4 linked regions of the Homo sapiens genome follow. The protein of the gene in region 2 purifies or fractionates together with the protein of the main gene of each other region. This does not show direct contact. Each region holds a gene or a part of one and is shown on either strand. Other genes may lie near its edges. The genes, in order: QKI, GLTP, SHKBP1 and ASPSCR1.

The links.
Region 1: the proteins of GLTP (region 2) and QKI purify together in Homo sapiens (co-immunoprecipitation; one large-scale study listed by IntAct). This does not show direct contact.
Region 3: the proteins of GLTP (region 2) and SHKBP1 purify together in Homo sapiens (affinity purification with mass spectrometry; 2 studies listed by BioGRID and IntAct, with this or other methods). This does not show direct contact.
Region 4: the proteins of GLTP (region 2) and ASPSCR1 purify together in Homo sapiens (affinity purification with mass spectrometry; 2 studies listed by BioGRID and IntAct, with this or other methods). This does not show direct contact.

What each region holds. Positions count from the first base shown.
Region 1 is NC_000006.12:163,559,395-163,564,717, reverse strand, and holds part of QKI (KH domain-containing RNA-binding protein QKI), read right to left. Parts: intron 2,737-5,323; coding exon 2,649-2,736; intron 1,299-2,648; coding exon 999-1,298; coding exon of another isoform or gene 973-998; exon of another isoform or gene 52-972; coding exon of another isoform or gene 8-51; exon of another isoform or gene 1-7. UniProt on the Homo sapiens protein: RNA reader protein, which recognizes and binds specific RNAs, thereby regulating RNA metabolic processes, such as pre-mRNA splicing, circular RNA (circRNA) formation, mRNA export, mRNA stability and/or translation.
Region 2 is NC_000012.12:109,869,838-109,875,160, forward strand, and holds part of GLTP (glycolipid transfer protein), read right to left. Parts: intron 1-5,323. UniProt on the Homo sapiens protein: Accelerates the intermembrane transfer of various glycolipids. Catalyzes the transfer of various glycosphingolipids between membranes but does not catalyze the transfer of phospholipids. May be involved in the intracellular translocation of glucosylceramides.
Region 3 is NC_000019.10:40,582,811-40,588,133, forward strand, and holds part of SHKBP1 (SH3KBP1-binding protein 1), read left to right. Parts: intron 1-587; coding exon 588-675; intron 676-790; coding exon 791-907; intron 908-3,933; coding exon of another isoform or gene 3,934-3,963; coding exon 3,964-4,134; intron 4,135-5,323.
Region 4 is NC_000017.11:81,983,354-81,988,676, forward strand, and holds part of ASPSCR1 (tether containing UBX domain for GLUT4), read left to right. Parts: intron 1-200; coding exon 201-315; intron 316-2,153; coding exon 2,154-2,254; intron 2,255-5,323. UniProt on the Homo sapiens protein: Tethering protein that sequesters GLUT4-containing vesicles in the cytoplasm in the absence of insulin. Modulates the amount of GLUT4 that is available at the cell surface. Enhances VCP methylation catalyzed by VCPKMT.

The sequences.
Region 1 (5,323 bases), on a different chromosome or scaffold from region 2:
CAGCAAGTCAATGGGCTGAAATATCAGGCATGACTGGCATTTCAATCCACTCTATAAAAAAAAGGCATCAGTAATGTCTTTTTCGAGCACACCACTTTTTGTTCATGTAAAACCAAGCGTTTATATTATGATTTTAATTTCTGCCTTAAGTGAGATTCTGAATTCAGTGATTTGCTATTTATTTAACTATTCCATACTGTACTACTGAAATTAAGAGTATCTCTCATGTTTAATATGACTAGGACTCCAAAACACAAGAACTGAAAAATCTTAAGAATACAACTACAGTCATGCCTGCATAACAACATTTTGGTCAACAACGGACCACTTATACTATGTGGTCCCATAAGATTATAATGGCTATACCACACAGCCTAGGTGTGTAGTAAACGATATCATCTATGTCTGTGTAAGTACACTCTATGATGTACACCAAATGATGAAACTGCCAGACAAGGCAATTCTTAGACTGTATCCCCGTTGTTAAGCGATGCATGACTGTATTTATCTGATATTTTAAGTGATCGCAAATATTACAAAACACACACAATAATATGAATTTTATAAAGCGCTCAGACTACTTTCACTTAGAAGTTTAAAAATTTTCCAACAATTACACAAACCTGTGAGATAAAATAAATCTCAAATAAAGTTTGAGAAGTGGAGCTGATGGAGGTGACGGGCCAATGGGGTGGGACCTAAAACTCAGAATGACCTCAGTAATGTCAAATGTAAAAGTATTTGTTGAAATGTACACAACAGATTTACCCAACCAAACTGAACCTCAGTTACCAAAGTGGATCTGAATAAATTTAAGGTGCAATTATTTCAAAGGGGAACCCTTATGAGAGGCTGAAATAAAACAAAATTTAGTTTTCGGTCTTCCCTAATGCAAACTTGTCTTGCCTCTCTAAAACTGATAAAATCATTTCAAAATCTGAGGGAGCAAAAATATTTATAAAGAGAATGTTGTTAACCCCATGGGGAGAAGAACTTACCTAATACACCACTAGGTTCAATAGGATACTCAAGGATTGATGTAGCTGGTGCCAATGTGTAGGGGTACTCATAGGGTGTATAGATTAAACCAGCTTCGGGCCCTGGAGGAACTATTGCAGCAGTTGGGTGAGGAGTTCCGTTTGGCATGACAGCGGTCTGTATTTGTCTGATCAAAGGCATTATGGTAGGGCCAGCTGGCGTAGGAGTACGCAGGGCAGCTGGTGGGAGAACCGGCGCAGGCCCAGTAATGATCCTTGGAGCAGCCTGGGCTGTTGCTGCAAGAGAAAAGGCAAGGGCTGCTACAGTAAGCAAAGAAATTTAGAAAGAAGTATAGAGACAGCAGTATAAAATACGGAAAAATGAGAAGGGAGTAGGAAAAAGAAAGGAAAAGCAGGAAAGAAGAAAAATAAAAGGAAATCATTAGTACATGCGCTGATCACACAAAAATGCAAAAGCACACCAATCAAATGCAAACAGCTTTCCCTTTCCCAATGTGATTAAGAATGTGCAAAAATTAAAAAGCCATTGTAAAAAAATGAATGACACCATTAAATAGGTTATATTTAGTTCATACATTTGATATATCTAAGATTTCATAAGACTAAAGTACATGCAGAAGCACAATGAAACACTTGCATTAACAGATGTTAAAAAATAATTTGTAACCGGAGTCCACAGAAACTCAGTTTTGGTATATTTCTAAAGTACAGCTTTAGTTTCAAAGTAAAGAAAGAATAATTTTTATTGCATTTAGTCAAGTAACCACTAGGTATATATGTACATTTCCTGCATCTTTAGGAACCAACGTCACAGAAAATCTTAAAAAGCCCTACTTCTAAATTCCTATTAATGATATACTCACATTTTCATGAGTAAATTAATGTCAACAATTTGTAAAGTAACTACTTCTAAACCCACTAGAGGTTGCCTACATCTTCTAAATCTGGCTAGAACTTAAAAATTCTATGTGTTTTAAATAATCAGTAATTTAAACATGGTATGTTCATATAAATGACATGTATGAATCTTAAATTGTTTCAAAATATAAATTTCACATTATTTCATTTTAAACATAAAAAAGCTATCCTCTTACGGCTTATAAAAACATGCATAGATACGCATAAAAACAAAAATAGGACGGAAAAAGAGTTATCACCCACTGATCTCTGTGAACTCACATATGAAATCAACAGGGAAAAATACTAGAGGGAAAACATGCAAGCAAAGTGAAAGGACAGAACTCAACAGAGGGTCATTTCAGTCAGATACACTTCAAATTCACTTTTTCAAAATAAGCTTTCAATATGTTGTCTTTTGCATAAATTTAACAAGATAAGCTGCAAGCCCTACATCTGTAGTTAACCAAACAGAAAATTTCTTAAACACTTGAATTTAGAGATTGTGATTTTGTTAAAATAATGTAAGTTTATCAACCTAAAACTTCAACATGCTGACATAAAATAAAATCAAGAGTGTCCTCAATTCATGAAAGCATTAAAAATAGGACTGTCAGCCCCATATCAAGTGACAGAACAGTTATTTCAACTGTTCACTTTGTATGAACTATTATTGTGTTGCCAAAAGGAAAAAAGTCTGTAGACAAAACAACGCAGACAGCAGTAACCCTGGGCCTCAGAGCTCATTCTTACGTGATTTAATGTTGGCATCTCTGTAGGTGCCATTCAGAATCGCAAGCTCCATCAGCTGCATCTTCTTCAGGCTGTCTTCTCCTTCTGCCTATACATGGAAAACACATGAGATGAAAGCATTTGAGACTGTCCACAAATATAATAGCTATATCTACACACAAGCCTTAAAGTAAGTATCATGTGACTACAGTCACCTGTTTTAATAAGGGGAAAAAAAGATCAAGAACCAAAAGGTGCTAACATAATGGAGCCTGCTTTCTCTGTTTTCTCAGTAAAGGCATGTTGATATACAGCATATTGTATTTGTAAATTTTTTGTCAGTTACACCGATTTATTAAAGTTCCCCTAAAAAGCTTTACTTTTAAATAGAAATGAATGAAAATGTGAGATAAGACTAAACATAACATATTCTCTTCAGCATCTATCATTTTAAAATTACTTTAATTAATTTTATTGTTTTTAGATACAGGGTCTTGCTCTGTTACCCAGGCTGGAGTGCTGTGGCATGATCCTAGCTCACAGCCACCTTGAATTCCTAGGTTCGAGCCATCCTCCTACCTCAGCCTCCGAAGTAGCTGCGACTAGAGGCACGCGCCACCATGCCTGGCTAATTTTTTTTATTTTTTGTAGAGACAAGGTCTCGTTTTGTAGCCCAGGCTGGTCTCAAACTCCTGGCTTCAAGTGATCCTCCTGCTTCAGCCTCCCAAAGTGCTAAGTTTACAAGTGTGAGCCACTGCACCCAGCCAGCAACTATCATTTTGCTGAATATTCCAAAACTCAAATGTGTTCGTTAAACACACACATACACACACGCGCGTGCACATGTGCACACAAATAATTTTAAACATACAAGATTTGATTACAGAATTTAGGTAAGGAAATTTTATGCTTAATTCTTCAAAATATGAAAACTCAGTGAAATAATAACTTCTAAAAAACCGTATATTCTGCTCTCTTACACCACCATCCCTGTCTCCTTTCAATCTAATTAGCAAGTGCTATCAATGCTACAGCAATCTATCTTTAGGGTCACCATATGATTTATTGTCCAAAGCAGAAAACTTTTAAAAGCAAAAATGGGCACTAATAATAACCATGCTTCAAACCTAAATCAGGATAGTCTCTAATCATCAAAATGTTTGGCCACCCCATTTACCTTGAATTGGTCCCACTCTTTCCATTTACTGTTCCAGTTGTTTTTGGCATAGCACCCAAACTACTAAAACATGTTGCTAATGGTGTCTGTTCTCCAATCAATCTCTACACAAAGGCCAGATTAATTGCCCAAATCACAATTTTCATCATGTTTCTCAACATTCTGTCTCAAAACACTTTCATGGTTTCTTACTATCTAAAAATATAAAAAACTTTAGTTGCCTATAATCTGGTCCCAAAATATCCTCTCAAGTTAAGCCCATTAACCTACTACTTTACACACGTATGTAAGTAACATCTTAAGTCAAACCAGATTGCTCTCCACCATTCATCTCTGTGCATATTCCCACTTCCTCCATCCTAAGTGCTCCCCTGCGCACTCTCTGCCCCTCTCTCTTTCCAAATCCTACCTATCCCCATCCCCACAAACTTCAACCTAAATGCTACCTTCCTTCTCCAGGGGCCATCCCTAGATTACAGTAGATCCTCACTTAATGTGGTCAATACATTCTTTAAAACTAACTTTAAGTGAAACGACAGACAGCAGGTCCTCAAATAATGCCACTGCTTTCAACATGGTTTCATTATAACATTGATGAAAAAAGAGGCTGCAATATACTCATTTTGTTTAAAGTTGTATCTCCAAGAACCTATCGACAAAGTTAATTGCTTCTACTTCAAATTACAGTCTGTTGAGTATCACCACTCCCAAAGTAAGCTCCATGAGAATAGGGCTTATTTCTTTGTTACCACTGCCTAACCCCATGTTCCCACGGCCACCCCCAAGTTACTTACTAGAACTTATAAGTGACTGGTATGAGAAGTCTTTAACTTTATTTCCAAATCCCAAATGTCTCAGTCCAACATAAACTTTAGCCACAGTCAAAGCAAGCAGTAGATGAGGGTCCATCTATCAAAGTCTGTGTAGAGATAGAACTAACTGCCCCCCACTTTTATGTATCATCGAATCCCAGTAACTTTACATGACTTTGTGATATTTACAATGAAAGTAACACAATGCAACAATTTTCTGACATAGTCTTGTTCCTCTCTGATTCATAAAACGGGAAGGACGACCAGGACACAGGCTTCTCAGTGCTCCTTTCTATTATAGCTGTAATGACACACAAAATTCTGTTTTTGGCATTACAATGGTGAATGGTATACTATAATATATAGTAAACAGAACTGTTCAGTGAGCTTTTAGTAAATCACAAGAATTAAAGAAAAATATGAGTGAAACATAAAGACAATGTTTTGATGTGCTACTGCCAACTTTTTAAAAACCTACTTTGCAGAAGATTACAGGGAGTGGATACTGGCATGCCTGTAGAATTTGACTCCTATCAACTTGTACAAAGATGAACAAAAAGTAAGTATGATCTTAGAAAGACACAGAAATTATTTGTTAAAAACGAAATAAGTAAGCTACTATTGGAAAAGAAGAATCAAATCCATTATAATAAAACTTCAACTTATTTGCTAAAAACTAGTCATTTGAAAATTAAAACTTATCAAAA
Region 2 (5,323 bases):
CGGCTCACTGCAACCTCCACCTCCCAGGTTCGCACCATTCTCCTGCCTCAGCCTCCTGAGTAGCTTGTGCCACCATGCCTGGCTAATTTTTGTATTTTTAAAAGAGACAAGGTTTCACCATATCTCGAACTTCTGACCTCAAGAGATCTGCCTGCCTGGGCCTCCCAAAGTGCTGGGGTTACAGGCATGAGCCACCGCACTCGGCAAGTTTCCTCATTTTTAAAATGAGGCTCATAATGGACCCTTCTTCAAAGGGTTGCTGTGAGGCTTAAATAAAGTTGTATAAATAAAGGCCTAAGCACAGTTTCTGGTACCTAGTAAGTGCTCAGTGAAAAAGAAGGTATTAGGCTGGGCACCATGGCTCAGGCCTGTAATCCCAGCACTTTGGGAGGCTGTAGCGGACAAATCACCTGAGGTCAGGAGTTCAAGACCAGCCTGGCCAACATGGTGAAACCCCATCTCTACTAAAAATACAAAAATTAACTGGGTGTGGTGGTGTGTGCCTATAATTCCAGCTACTTGGGAGGCTGAGGTAAGATAATTGCTTGAACCTAGGGGGAGGGTGGAGGTTGCAGTGAGCCGAGATCATGCCACTGCACTCCAGCCTTGGTGACAGAGCAAGACTCTGTCTCAAAAATAAAATAAAATAAAATAAAATAAAATAAAAAGAAGGTATTATCATTTATGCTTATTATTATAAATTATATCATCATCACCTTTCCCAACAGACAAAGCTTTTCTTTAGAGAGGAAATCCAGAAAACAATTATTCCAATGATTAAGAAATCAAAGCAGAAGGAGAGGAAGGAAGGGAGGAGGGAGAAAAAGAATTATTGACTCATTGATTGATTGTTAGGGGTAAAATTAGCAGAAATCTCCCCATCATAAAATAATGACTTCAAATGTATTCCAGACCATTAAGACAGAGATCTCAGAAGGGAGTGAAGTAAGGAACTTGGAGGAACAGCAAGGCAGAAAATGAATCATTTCTGAACACAGGGGAAGTGTGAGTCGACTGCCTAACTGCCAGGGTGGAAAGCAGAGGCTTCTAGAAGACCCTGGAGAGGGCTGATCCACTGCAATGACTTTGAAAAGCTCAGATACAGTTAACACTCTAGCAAGAACCACAAAAAAGGCCTCCATATAAGTACCACTGTAAGTACGTAATAAAAGGAGTTAACATTCACTCTGGCAGGTTTTTACTGAAACAATGAAACCTAAGACTAGGACCCAACATTTCCATTCTTTTTTTTTTTTTTTTTTTTTTCTGAGACGGACTCTCGCTCTGTCCCAGGCTGGAGTAGTGGCGTGATCTCGACTCACTGTAACCTCCGCCTCCTGGGTCAAGCGATTCTCCTGCCTCAGCCTTCAGAGTAGCTGGGATTACAGGATTGCGCCACCACACCTGGCCAATTTTTTTTTGTATTTTTAGTAGAGACAGGGTTTTACCATGTTGGCCAGGCTGGTCTCAAACTCCTGACCTCGTGATCTACCCGCTTCGGCCCCCCAAAGTGTTGGGATTACAGGCATGAGCCACTGCGCCCGGCCCCAATATTTCCATTCTAAGAAGCTCATTGAAATAATCACATTGTCATGCCAGCCGGGAACTTCCTATCATTTCCCCTCCTCCCCTACAAGGGACATTTCTGCCCTAGAGACGACTTCCAACGTCTTCCTGTTTCCTGATGTGGTGTTGGTCTCCCCTGTTACAGGGCTAGACCTGCTGTAAAGTCCTGTGGACCACTTCCTACCTTCATGACCTGATCAAATCGCTTCACCTCCCTGCACATTGGTTTCCTCTTCTGGAAAATGGTGCCAAATTCCTCCTAAGTTCATCATGAGGATTAGAAATGAGTTACTGCCTAATTCAATGGCATATCCTGGGAGCCACTCAAAATAGAGATGATGCTAGTTATGATCACGGTCATACGTTATATTTTATAAAGCCCTTTGTCATGAATTCCTCCCATTCCTTTTCACGTGGATATAGGCTGGGCGCCCATGCTGCAGAAGCCCATTGGTGGGTCCTGGGAGGGCCTGACTTCTGCCCCAAGGGATTCACAGTGGAGGGCTGTCCCTCCAAGCATCCCTGTGCAGCAGAGGAGGGGCAAGATGAGTTAGCAAGCAACTGTAGTCTCTCCCCTCCTACTCAATCCTCGTCCTTCTGGCAGCAGAGAGGCCAAACCTCAGGCTCTGACCTCAAGGGCCAGATTTTTCTGAACACAAAGATCTAATCACCACCATCCCAGGACCGGGTGGGCGGGTGCCACTGGTCTGTATGTACTCTGGCCTTTGGACATTATAAAGGAGGCTGCTGGAGCAATTGTCAGACTTAAGCAGCCATGCAGCTGGCTCTGTGCCCTGGCAGTCATTCACCAAGTCAGGCATTGATTTTGGTGCTCCTGCCTGGACTCACCACATCTTTCCAAAGGTAGGATGGATGGCCCTAGACCTTTAGGAAGTGGGCCTTTTGCCACACAGCTGTTGGGAAACGGAGCTGCCAAAAAGAAGCCACCTCGGGGCCTCTCAAGCTCAGGCTGGCTCAGATGGATGCCAGTCTCCGTGTTTCCTTCCACTCATCTGTCCACGGTGTTCAGGGCATGGATGTCAGAGGAAGAGAATCAGACTCAAAGTGACTTCTCCCCTCTGAGCCTCAAAAACAGCCGACTCATGGGCTGTTACACACATGGACAGAAAAACACAATAGGGCCCTCCATAGCCCTCCTTCCAGATTGTTCTCTGGCCAGGTGGGATCAAGAGTGGGACCCACCAGCACGGCACCAGCACACAGCAGGTGTTCCTGAAGGCTAAAAAAGCCTCACTTACTACTTGCAAATGCATCTCCGAAGTCTGCCAGCAGTTTCAAAATTGTACAGCCATTGCAGAAAGTGTCTCTCTGGCTTCTTCCTCCAACAAGACATTATTTGTTTCATCTTCTCAGGGTCCCTCCCAGGCACACAATCTAAATCACATTCCACTAGAATCCAGCTCTCAACAGTCAATCAAAATGATAACTCACCTGCTATATTAGGAGGGTTAATACAGTTTCTTGTCTTTCTTGGGATATTCTTCACCAACCTTGTCCAACCCGCAGACCGCAGGCTGCATGTGGCCCAGGACCGCTTTGAATGTGGCCCAATACAAATTCATAAACTTTCTTAAAACATTATGAGATTTGAGTTTTGTTTTGTTTTGTTTTGGTTTTTAGCTCCTCAGCTATCATTAGCGTTAGTGTATTTCATGTGTGGCCCAAGACAATTCTTCCAGTGTGGCCCTGGGAATCCAAAAAATTGTACACCCCTGTTCTATACAAAACCAAAAATAAACAGGTATTAGCATTAACTTTAAATTTAAAAAAAAAAAAGCAGAAAATATTGTAAGGCTGTGGTAGGTGGTCCCAAATCTCAGAGGATGCTTGTTGCAGTGGGGGAGCTTCTAACTCACAGATCAAGGGGTACAGGTGGGGCTGGTTCCCAGTTAGCCTGATGTCCCAGATGAAGGAAAAGCCAGAGCTGAGGCTGGGCGCGGTAGCTCACGCCTGTAATCCCAGCACTTTGGGAGGCTGACGTGGGTGGATCATGAGGTCAGGAGTTCAAGACCAGCCTAGCCAGCATGGTGAAACCCTGTCTCTAGTGAAAATACAAAAAATTAGCCGGGCATGGTGGTGCACATCTGTAATCCCAGCTACTGGGGAGGCTGAGCCAGGAGAATCACTTGAACCCAGGACGCAGAGGTTGCAGTGAGCCGAGATCGTGCCACTGCACTCCAGCCTGGGCAATAGAGCAAGACTCTGTCTCAAAAAAAAAAAAAAAAAAAAAAAGCAAGAGTTGAGCGCCGTGGCACACGCCTATAATCCCAACTACTTATGAGGCTGAGGCAGGAGGATCACTTGAGCCCAGGAGCTGGAGGCTGCAGTGAGCTGTGATCACCCCACTGCATGCCAGTCTGGGCGATGAAGCAAGACCTTGTCTCTTAAACAAAACACACACACACACACACACACAACCAGCCAACTTGTTTGGGGCTTTTCCCACAAGACGATTTCAACACTCCAGTCATTTTCTAATTTACATTCAAATAAACAGGAGTTATGGACCAGCTTGGCGGGCTGTTTATGAGTTACACACCTCAGAGCAAACCTGCATGTCTGGTCTGTGGCACCCACACCACTTGTCATGTGGACAAGTCACCATGGTGCCAGCAGAACCACTGGAATTCCTCAAGTACCCAACCAGGCTGGCTCCACTGGGGGTCTTCTCCTTTGCCAGAGAGAAAGCCAGGACAGCAGGCATGACAGCAAGAGCACCACATAAGGAGTCCAGAGGACTGAGTTCTAGTCTGGTGCATAAGGTGTCCAGAGGCCCAAGTTCTAGTCTGGCTTTACTGGTCACTCACTGGCTGTGTGACCCTGAGCAAGTCACCTAACCTCTCTGGCCTCGGTTTCTTTGGCTGTAAAACAAGATAAATCTCTGATTCTAGGCTGCCACTGCCACCCTCCCCCAAAATGGAACAAGCACTGAACCAAAAGTGATGGAAAACCACTCTTTCTGGGTTCACTCTAGGACTATTTAATGCGTGCCGGATACCTAGAAGGCCACATTCCACAGACATCCATTTAATTAAGGTAAGAGGCATGAAGAAAAATCAACCCCAGAATTTGGATCTCAAGAACCGAGAGGTAATGAAGAATCATTACCTTCAGCTCTTCCATCTCTAGACTCTCCCTAAACAGTGAGAGCAAATAGGTATCATCTCATGCAGCACTCTAACTGACCTGGAGTGGCTGTGTTAATAAAGATGCCGAGGCTGTGTTTAGGCTCAAAGGGGAAAACAGCATCATGATTGATTAATGATGTCTGCCACAAGTACAGGCTATGAGGGGGTTATGTATTTTAATTTAGTCATGTATCTTATTTTAGTTTAGTTTAGTTGATTTATTTTGAGACGGAGTCTCACTCTGCTGCCCAGGCTGAAGTACAGTGGTGCAATCTCAGCTCACTGCAACCTCCGCCTCCCAGGTTCAAGGGATTCTTCTGCCTCAGCCTCCCGAGTAGTTGGGATTACAGGAGAATGCTAACATGCCCGACCAATTTTTTTTGTATTTTTAGTAGAGACGGAGTTTCTCCATGTTGGTCAGGCTGGTTTCCAACTCCTGACCTCAGGTGATCTGCCCGCCTCAGCCTCCCAAAGTGTTGGGATTACAGGAGTGAGCCACCATGCCTGGCCTACTCATCTATTTTAATTTGGAAAGAGAGAGAAGGGCCCAGCATCTTCAACAAGAACCCAGAAGAATGAGAATGGAATGAAAAGCAGTCATTCAGCGA
Region 3 (5,323 bases), on a different chromosome or scaffold from region 2:
GAGGCTGAGGTGGGAGGATGGCTTTGGGAGAAAGACAGACAGAGGCAGAGAAAGAGACAGAGAGGCAGAAAACCAGGCAAATAGAAATAGAAAATCAGAAAGAGGTGACAGAGAAGGGTAGACAGAGTCAAACCAGACTGAACCACTGTGGCAGATGGGGGAACTCAGAGAGATAAATGGAGATGAATTAGAGTCATGTCAGAAGTACATAGTGGAGGCCGGGTGCAGTGACTCCCGCCCGTAATCCCAGCACTTTGGGAGGCCGAGGCAAGAGGATGGCTTGAGCCCAGGAGTTTGACGCCAGCCTGGGAAACATAATAAGACTCTGTCTCTACAAAAAATTTAAAAAATTAAAACTTTAAAAAGTACAGAGTCCAGGAGAGGCCAAGAGTCAGACAGACAGATGCATCAAAGGGAGGAAGGGAGGGAACAAGACAGGGACAAAGGCAGGCCTGGGGTGGACGGGGCTGGGGAGCAGTGGGTGGGTTCTGGAGGTGGAGGAGAGGGCCCATCCTCTGTGAGGGGTCACCACGGAAGGAAAGGAATGGAAGGGCTCCCGGCTGCAGCCTGTCCTGCCCCACCCCCAGGTCCAGGAGGTGCAGCCCATCACCAGTTATGACGCGGCAGGCTCCTTCCTCCTCCTGGGCTGCAACAACGGCTCCATTTACTACGTGGGTGAGCAGCAGCCTGTGTCCCGGGTGCCCGAGACCCTCCCCTGGGAGAGGGGAAGGGAGGGAGAGAGGCTGGGGCACTTGGAACAAACCCGCTCCACCCTCCCTGCCCACCCCAGATGTGCAGAAGTTCCCCTTGCGCATGAAAGACAACGACCTCCTTGTCAGCGAGCTCTATCGGGACCCAGCGGAGGATGGGGTCACCGCCCTCAGTGTCTACCTCACCCCCAAGACCAGTAAGCTATGACCCGGCTTCCCCTGCTGCTGTCACCTGCCAGCCCCAGCCCCAGCCTGCAGCTGTCCCCCAACTTGTGTAGCATGACCCAGAGGGGTTTATCGAGGGGCGGCAGATTCAACTCTCTCTCATTTTTTTTTCTGAGACAGACTCTCATTCTGTTGCCCAGGCTGGAGTGCAGTGGTGCAATCTTGGCTCACTGCAACCTCCACCTCCTGAGTTCAAGCGATTCTCCTGCCTCAGCCTCCCAAGTAGCTAGGATTACAGGCGCCCACTGCCACGCCTGGCTAATTTTTGTAGTTTTAGTAGAGATGGGGTTTCACCATGTTGGCCAGGCTGGTCTTGAACTCCTGACCTCAGATGATCCTCCCGCCTCAGCCCCCCAAAGTACTGGGATTACAGACGTGAGCCACCGCGCCCAGCCAGATTCAACTCTCATCCAGTCATTCAACAAATATTTACTGAGTATCCCTGTATATAAGCACGTTCTAGGTGCTAGATGGTGGCCACCCTCTCCACTAGGGGCAGAATGGACCATTAGGAGTTAATCTTTGTGTTTCTTTCCCACCTTTGTGATTAAGGCATGATGTTCACATGTTCATAAAACAACACAGATGCAGGTTTTACAGCAGATGAACCTGAGTTCTCTTACTTGAGACAGTTTTTTGTTTTGTTTTCTTGACATCAAATGCAGAATGGGTTAATTTTTGAGACGTAATTCTCATACCATAAAATTTCCCATTTGAACGTGCACAATTCAGCGGATTTTAGTATATTCACAAGGTTGTACAACTATCACCATGAACAAATTCCAGAGTATGTTCATCACCCCCGTAAGAAACCCCCTGATCTTTAGCAGTAACTCCACATTTCTCACTTCTGATACCCTCTAGAAATCACTAATATGCTTTCTCTTTTTGTTTGAGACAAGGTCTCGCTCTGCTGCCCAGGCTGGAGTGCAGTGGCATGATCTCAGCTCACTGCAATCTCTGCCTCTTGGGTTCAAGCGATTCTCATGCCTCAGCTTCCTGAGTAGGGGAGGATTACAGGTGTGCATCACCATGCCTGGCTAATTTTTCTACTTTAAGTAGAGACTGGGTTACGCCACGTTGGCCAGGCTCAATATGCTTCCTATACCTATGGATTTGCCTGTTCTGGACAATTCCTGTAAATGGGATCATACATTATATGGTCTTTTGTGTCTGCATTTTTCACTTAGCATATTTTTTTAAATGGTTAGTGTTTTCTGGGTCTTAAGATATCCTTACCTATTCTAGGTTACAAAGATCTTCTCCTGAATTTCTTCTAGAAGATTTACAGTTTAGTTTTTACATGGAAGTCTGTTCTATCAGAAATTAAATTTTATGTATGGTGTGAAGCAGGGATTATTCTTTTTTAAAAAAAAATAGAGACAGGGTCTTGCTCTGTTGCCCAGGCTAGAGTGCAGTGGCATGATGTGAGTTCTCTGCCACCTCCGCCACTCGGGCTCAAGCGATTCTTCTACCTCAACCTCCTGAACAGCAGAACCACAGGCATGCATCACCACACCTGTCTAATTTTTGTATTTTTTTGTAGAGACAGGGTTTTGCCATGTTGCCCAGGCTACTCTTGAACTCCTGGGCTCAAGTGATCCTCACACTTTGGCCTCCAAAGTGCTGGAAATACAGACTTGAGTCACTGTGCTTGGCCATAGCTGCTGCTGCTGCTTTTCTTTTTTTTTTAAAGCAGAAATAAGTTAATAATACACCTAACTTCATGACACATTATCACCTTTCTTCTTTGTAAGGCCCTTTTCTTATTTCTTTTTTTTCTTTCTTTCTTTTTTTTTTTTTTTGTCTTTTCCTGAGACAGAGTATCGCTCTGTCATTCAACCCAGGCTGGAGTGCAATGGCGCAATCTCAGCTCACTACAACCTCTGCCTCCTGGGTTCAAGCAATTCTCCAGACTCAGCCTCCCAAGTAGCTGGGATTACGGGTGCCTGCCACCATGCCCAGCTAATTTTTGTGTTTTTAGTAGAGGCAGGGTTTTGCCACGTTGGCTAAGCAAGTTTTGAACTCCTGGGATTCTCCTCTCGTCGTCTCCCAAAGTGCTGGAATTACAGGCATGGGCTGCTGCACCCGGCCTCTTTCTTATTTCACTTACTTACTCATTTCCTCCTCATCTCCCTTCCCGCCACATGCCACTATTATGTCATTTTTCTTTGTTTTTTGAGACAGTCTCGCTTCGTCACCTAGGCTGGAGTGCAGTGGCGCAATCATAGCTCACTGCAGCCTCACCCCCTGGGCTCAAGTGATCCTCCTACTTCAGCCTCTTGAGTAGCTGGGATCATAGGTGAATGCCATCACACCCAACTAGTTTTTTAAAAATCTTTTGTAGAGATGAGGGTCTCACTATGTTGCCCAGGCTGGCCTCAAACGCCTGGCCTCAAGCAATCTTCCTGCCTCGGCCTCTGTTCTCTGTTTTACTTTCTCTTTCCTCTCTTATTTGCTGTTTCACTGTTACAATTTCTGTCTCTGGGCCTCTCCTCCTTTGACCTGTGCCTTTGTCTCCCTGTTCCTCCATTTCCCACATCTCATCACCATCTTTTTGTGTCCTTCCCTCTCTCCTTGCTTTCTGACTGTGTCTCTGTTCTGTGTCTCTTTCTTTCTTTCTTTCTTTTTTTTTTTTTGAGACAGAGTCACATTCTGTCATGCAGGCTGGAGTGCAGTGGCGTGGTCTTGGCTCATTGCAACCTCTGCCTCCTGGGTTCAAGCAATTCTCATGCCTCAGCCTTCTGAGTAGCTGGGATTACAGGTGCGTACTACCACCACCAGCTAATTTTTGTATTTTTACTAGAGACAGGGTTTCAGCACGTTGGCCAGGCTGGTCTTGAACGCCTGACCTCAAGCGATCCACCCGCCTCAGCTTCCCAAAGTGATGGGATTACGGCGTGAGCCACCGTGCCCGGCCTCTCCTTGCTTTCTGACTGTGTCTCTGTTCTGTGCCTGTTTCTTTCTCCCTGCCCTGGTTTCTGTCTCTGTGGCCCAGGCCCTCTCCTCATCCTTGGCCCCTCACCAGGTGACAGTGGGAACTGGATCGAGATCGCCTATGGCACCAGCTCAGGGGGCGTGCGGGTCATCGTGCAGCACCCGGAGACTGTGGGCTCGGGGCCTCAGCTCTTCCAGACCTTCACTGTGCACCGCAGCCCTGTCACCAAGATCATGCTGTCGGAGAAGCACCTCATCTCAGGTGAGCCTCTGTGGGGTGCTCCAGTGCTGGGAGAGACAGCTCAGATGGGAGTGTGGAGACAGGAGGATGAGAATTTCCACTGGGGAGGGACATTGTGTAGGAAGAGAGCTCTGGCGGAGAGGATTGACCTGGGATGGGACTGTAATTGCAGAAGTGAGAGAATACCATAGGGGATCAGTCTGGGGAAGAGTGAATCTGTGTGTGTTTGGGAATCCATCAATTCAGCAACGATTTACGGGGCACCCACCATGTGCCAGGCATAGGGGATACAGTGATGAACAAGACAGGCCAAGTCCCTGCCCTCGTGGAGCTGACATTCTAGCAGCGATGGCAGACAATAAATCTATAAAAATGGACATCAATGGCCAGCTGCGGTGGCTCACACCTATAATCCCAGAACTTTGGGAGGCCAAGGCGGGTAGATTACTTGAGGTCAGGAGTTCGAGACCAGCCTGGCCAACATGGTGAAACCCCACCTCTACCAAAAATATAAAAAATTAGCCAGGTGTGGTGGCACGTGCCTGTAATCCCCGCTACTCGGGAGGCCGAGGGAGGAGAATTGCTTGAACCTGGGAGGCGGAGATTGCAGAGAGCCCAGATCATGCTACTGCACTCCAGCCTAGGCAACAGAGCGAGACTCCATCTCAAAAATAAATAGATAAAAATGCAAATCAGGCTGGGCACTGTGGCTCATGCCTATAATCCCAGCACTTTGGGAGGCCAAGGTGGGAGGATTGCTTGAGGCTAGGAGTGTGAGACCAACCTGGACAACAAAGTGAGACATTGTTTCTACAAAAAATTTTTAAAAAATTAGCCAAGTATGGTGGCATGCACCTGGGGTCCCAGCTTCTTGGGAGGCTGAGGTGGAGGGATCACTTGAGCCCAAGAGTCAGGGGCTGCAATCAGCTATGATTGCACCCCTGCACTCCAGCCCAGGCAACAAAGCAAGACTCTATCTCATAAAATATTAATAAAATAATCTAAATCAACACCAGGCAATGATAAGGGCTATGAATAAACATGAAGCTGTGTGTGGCTAGAGAGTGTCAAGTCGCTGGAGAGGGGTCATTCAGGGAAGGCCTGAGGAAGGACCTTTGAGCAGAAATAACAGAATGAGCAGTGCAGATTGGTAGGGACAAGCATTCAGGCCGAGGGAACAGGCATTGCAAAGGCTCTGAGGTGAGAGGAT
Region 4 (5,323 bases), on a different chromosome or scaffold from region 2:
TGCAGGAGGCCCCATATGATCGGGGACCCGCCTTGTGCCTCTGCAGGTCATGACGTCCCGCTGTTGGGGAGCTGCCACAGGACGTGGATGGCGGGGCGTGGATGGCGGGGCGTGGATGGTGGGACGGGGATGGCGGGGCGTGGATGGCAGGGCGTGTCAGGCTCTGCAGGGCAGCAAGTGTGCTCTGGTCTGTCTTGCAGGTTTCAGAGGAGCGTGCTCGACCTTTCTCTCCAGTGGAGATTTGCCAACCTGCCCAACAATGCCAAGCTGGAGATGGTGCCCGCTTCCCGGAGCCGTGAGGGGCCTGAGAACATGGTGGGTCGTGCTCTGGGGGAGGCTGACTGTGTGGGGCACAGGATCGTTCAGCTGGCCAGGGACGGGGGACGGGACAGTGGGGGGTGCTGGGGAAGGAGGGACATGAGTCTTAGCACCAGTTCTGCCTTCCCTGGGTTGGGCCCAAACAGCTTCCTGTTTTTTGATAACTGGCAACTGAAAATGAGCATCTCATGTTTTTTTTTTTTTGAGCTGGAGTCTCGCTCTGTCGCCCAGGCTGGAGCTCAGTGGCGCAGTCTCGGCTCACTTCAAGCTCCGCCTCCCGGGTTCACACCATTCTGCCTCAGCCTCCCGAGTAGCTAGGACTACAGGTGCCCGCCACCACACCCGGCTAATTTTTGTATTTTAGTAGAGGCAGGGTTTCACCATGTTGGCCTGCTGGTCTGGAACTGCTGACCTCATGATCTACCCGCCTCGGCCTCCCAAAGTCCTCCCAAAGGATTGCAGGCGTGAGCCTCTGCGCCCCGCCCACGTCATTCTTCATGTGGAAGTTTTTCTTTCTTTCTGGGGTCAGTTGTGCCTTCCCTGGCTCAGGGTGTCAGCAGCATTCACCCACCAGCCTGACCACCTGCTCATAGAATTGCCCAGAATGTTAGAGCCGAAAGCGCTGCATGGATGCCGCAAGGGCAGCCTGTAATCCCAGCACTTTAGGAGGCCGAGGCGGGCAGATCACCTGAGGTCAGGAGTTTGGGACCAGCCGGCCAACATAATGAAACCCCGTCTCTACTAAAAATACAAAAATTAGCCGTGGGTGGTGGCGGATGCCTGTAGTCCCAGCTACTCAGCAGGCTGAGGCAGGAGAATGGCGTGAACCCGGGAGGCGGAGCTTGCAGTGAGCCGAGATTGTGCTGCCACTGCACTCCAGCCTGGGCGACAGAGTGAGACTTTGTCTCAAAAAAAAAAAAAAGAGCAGCAAACATTTACCATCTCATGTGGCTTCTGAGGGTCAGGAATCTGGGAGCAGCTTAGCTCAGTGTCTGTCCTGAGGCTGCAGTCAGGTTCGGTGGAGCTGCAATCTTTTGAAGCCCCCACTGGGACACGAGGACTGTCTCCAACACAGTTCACTCCTGTGGCGCCTGCATGTACCCACACACACCCACACACACCCCCACACACCCACATACCCGCACACCCGTACACACCCCCACACACCCCTGCACACACCCCACACACACCTGCACACCCCCGCACACACACCCCCCACACACACCCACACACACCCCTACAGCAACGTGCACACACCCCCACACCCGCACACACCCGCACACACCCCACACACCTGCACACACCCACACACCTGCGTGCACACCCCCCCACACACCTGCACACACCGCCCACACCAACATGCACACACCTCCCCCCCACACACACCCACGCACACACCTGTACACACACACCTACACATCTGCGCACATACCCGCACACACCTGCATGTAAACATGCACACACACGCACATCTGCACGCACATGCGCACACCTGCACACACCCACACACCAACATGCACACATCCACACACATACCTGCACACAACTGCACACCCCCGCACACACCCACACACACATATGCACACACGCACGCACACCTGCACATACCTGCACACTCACATGCACACACGCATGCTGGTGCAGCCCTGCCGGGGAGCCTCCAAGGCCCTCACTCCAGAGTGAATAGGAGGGTAGCCTTCTCCGTGGGGGTCAGCCTCTCCCTGGAGGCCAGGGCGGGGCAGTCACCCTCTCTGTGTCTGGAGAATCAGTCTGGGATTTAGAAGGAATAGTTGCTTTTCTTCCTAAGGAAGTTTCTCATGTCTTATACCCTCCAGGTTCGCATCGCTTTGCAGCTGGACGATGGCTCGAGGTTGCAGGACTCTTTCTGTTCAGGCCAGACCCTCTGGGAGCTTCTCAGCCATTTTCCACAGATCAGGTGAGCATCAGTGGGCTGGGGGCTCTTCCCTACCCTGTTTGCTGGGGAAGCTGCTGTGGTTACTGGGTCTGGTTCAGAGCTGGACACCCAAGCTCTGTGCTGGCCTGTGGTGCCTCTTGGCACTTTGCAGTCCTTTGTAGAGGAGGGGTGTGTGGGCTGCCGGTTCATGAGCAGCAGCCTCGGGGATGGCTGGTCACAGCTCATCGTTCTGAGTTTCCTGGGCCCAGCGGCCCAGCCTTGCCCACCTAGAAGAGCAGGAATGTGCTTCTGTCCTTGTGGGGGCCTGGTGAGCACTAAGGGGAGACGTTCGGTGCTGGGGGCAGGGCTCCCCATGCTTGATTCCCCTGGATGGGATCATAAGGTCTCTTTTTTTTAAGAGGCAGGGTCTCACTATGTTGGTCACCTAGGCTGCTCTTGAACCCATGGGCTCAAGAAATTCTCCCATCTCAGCCTCCCAAAGCGTTGAGATTACAGGTGTGAGCTCCTGTGCCCCACCAGAAAATCTTCCTAATAGTAATTGGATGGCTGGGCACAGTGGCTGGGCACAGTGGCTGGGCAAAGTGGCTTGCACTTTGGAAGGCCGAGGCTGGCGAATCGCTTGAGCTCATGAGTTCAAGACTAGCCTCGGCAACATAGTGAAACCCCTTCTCTACAAAAAATAGAAATGTTAGGCCAGGCATAGTGCATGGTGGTGCGTGCCTGTGGTCCCAGCTATGCCAGAGGCTGAGGTGGGAGGATCACTTGAGCCGTGGAGGCAGTTGCAGTGAGCCGAGATCGCACTGCTGCACTCCAGCCTGGGCAACAGAACGAGACTCTGTCTCAAAAAAATAAATAAATAAAAATAAGTAATTGATGTGTATCAGTTTCTGTCGGTTAATGGTTTAAACGTTGTTCCTGAATGTGTAAAAATTGGTGCTTTGTCAATTTGGGTCTTTTCATCGTTGGCTGGAAGTCTCTGTCCACAGTAAAAGGCTCAGCAGAATGGAAGGGACTTGGGGCTGGGGTTTGCTGTGAGCCAGGGGGTTCTCGCCCTCCCCGGGCCTCAGTTTCCTCACCTGTGCCCCGGCTGGTGTGTGGATGGGGTGAGTTCATGTCTTGAGGACCGAGCATAGGGCCTGTGGGAAGGTGACCGCGCGTCGGGCGCTGGGAAGGTGACTGTGCGTTGGGCGCGCTTGGTGGCCCCAGGGCTGGGCCTGCTCCCGTCTGACAGTAGTGCCGCGCTGCATGGCACGGGTGTTGCGTTCGTGGGTGAGAGCGCTGAGGTCTGCACGTCGGGTCTCAGTGGTCATGGGGATGGAAGCCACCCCAGTGGCTGTCGGGGTGAATGGAGGCCCCTGGAGATGGCAGCGGGTTAAGCACGAGCACGGAATTCTCCCTCCCAAAACGGAACTCAGACAACAGTGACGGAGCCTAAGAGCAAAGCCAAAGCCACGGGCAGGGGTGAGCGGGACCCGAGGCAGGAGATGACGGAGCCTAAGAGCAAAGCGAAGCCACGGGCAGGGGTGAGCGGGACCCGAGGCAGGAGGTGACAGAGCCTAAGAGCAAAGCGAAGCCACGGGCAGGGGTGAGCGGGACCCGAGGCAGGAGATGACGGAGCCTGAGAGCAAAGCGAAGCCACGGGCAGGGGTGAGCGGGACCCGAGCCAGGAGTGGCGCCGGGCAGGGAGGCAGGCAGCCCCAGGCGCTGTGTGGGCACTGGGTGAGAAGCAGGGATCCCGGCGCCCTGGCTCTGTGCTGCTTCCTGAGACGAGAGTGGCAGAGGGCAAGAAGAAAACCAAACAGCGCGGGGAACAGAAGTCAGGAAAGATGAACGTCTGGAAGGAAATGCCCCTGGGCCGGGCGGTGCCCCCGGGCGTGAACAGAATCCAGTGCTCCCACAGGCACAGGTGCTTGGTGAGGGCCGTCCTCCCTGGCTGTGCTGTCAGTCCTCAGATGGGGATGGAGGTAAGGAAATGGCCCAGAGTGGCCTGGGGCTGCCACTGGGGAGGGGCCGAGGGTGTCTGGAGAGGTGGGGCCGGCATTGTGGTAGCATAAGCCTCTTCAACAGACTTTGTAAACCTCGTGTGAAACTTAGTTTAAGAAACAACAGGCTTGGCCAGGCGTGGTGGTTCTGGAAGTGGCTTTGGAGCTGGCTTTGGTGGTGGCTGTGGGGGTGGGTTTGGGCGCTTTGGAGGAGGTTGCAGTGAGCCGAGATCGCACCATTGCACTCTAGCCTGGGTGACAAGAGCAAAACTCCATCTCAAAAAAACAAAAAAACAAAAGAAACAACAAGGCTGGGCACGGTGGCTCACACCTGTAATCGCAGCACTTTGGGAGGCTGAGGCGGGTGGATCACGAGGTCAGGAGTTCGAGACCAGCCTGGCCAATATGGTGAAACTCCATCTCTACTAAAAATACAAAAATTAGCCGGGCGTGGTGGTGGGTTCCTGTAGTCCCAGCTACTCAGGAGGCTGAGGCAGAAGAATTGCTTGAACCCAGGAGGTGGAGGTTGCAGTGAGCCAAGATTGCACTCAGCCTGGGCAACAGAGCGAGACTCTGTCTCAAAAAAAAAAAAAAAAGAAACAACAGAAGTGGCTGGGCGTGATGGCTCACGCCTGTAATTCCAACCCTTTGGGAGGCCGAGGTGGGTGGATCACCTGAGGTCAGGAGTTCGAGACCAGCCTGGCCAACATGGTGAAAACCCATCTCTACTAAAAATACAAAAATTAGCTGGGCGCAATGGCTCATGCTTGTAGTCCCAGCTACTCAGGAGGCAGGAGAATCACTTGAACCCGGGAGGCGGAGGTTGTAGTGAGCTGAGATTGCGCCACTGCACTCCAGCCTGGGTGACAAAGCAGGACTCCGTCTCAAAAAAAAAAAAAAAAACAAGAGCAAGTGGGGCAGCTCTTTCGAGACACCAGGGACAGCAGGAGGTGGTGGGGCCGTTGGTGGTAAAGCCCGGAGCCCCCAGCCTGCGGCCCTGGTCTGTGTGGCAGTGTGGGTCTGTCTGCGGGTGTGTCTGCACGTACACCTCATTTGATGAACACTCACACCTGTGGTGGAGAGTGATTTGTGGCTGACTGTTGTTGCT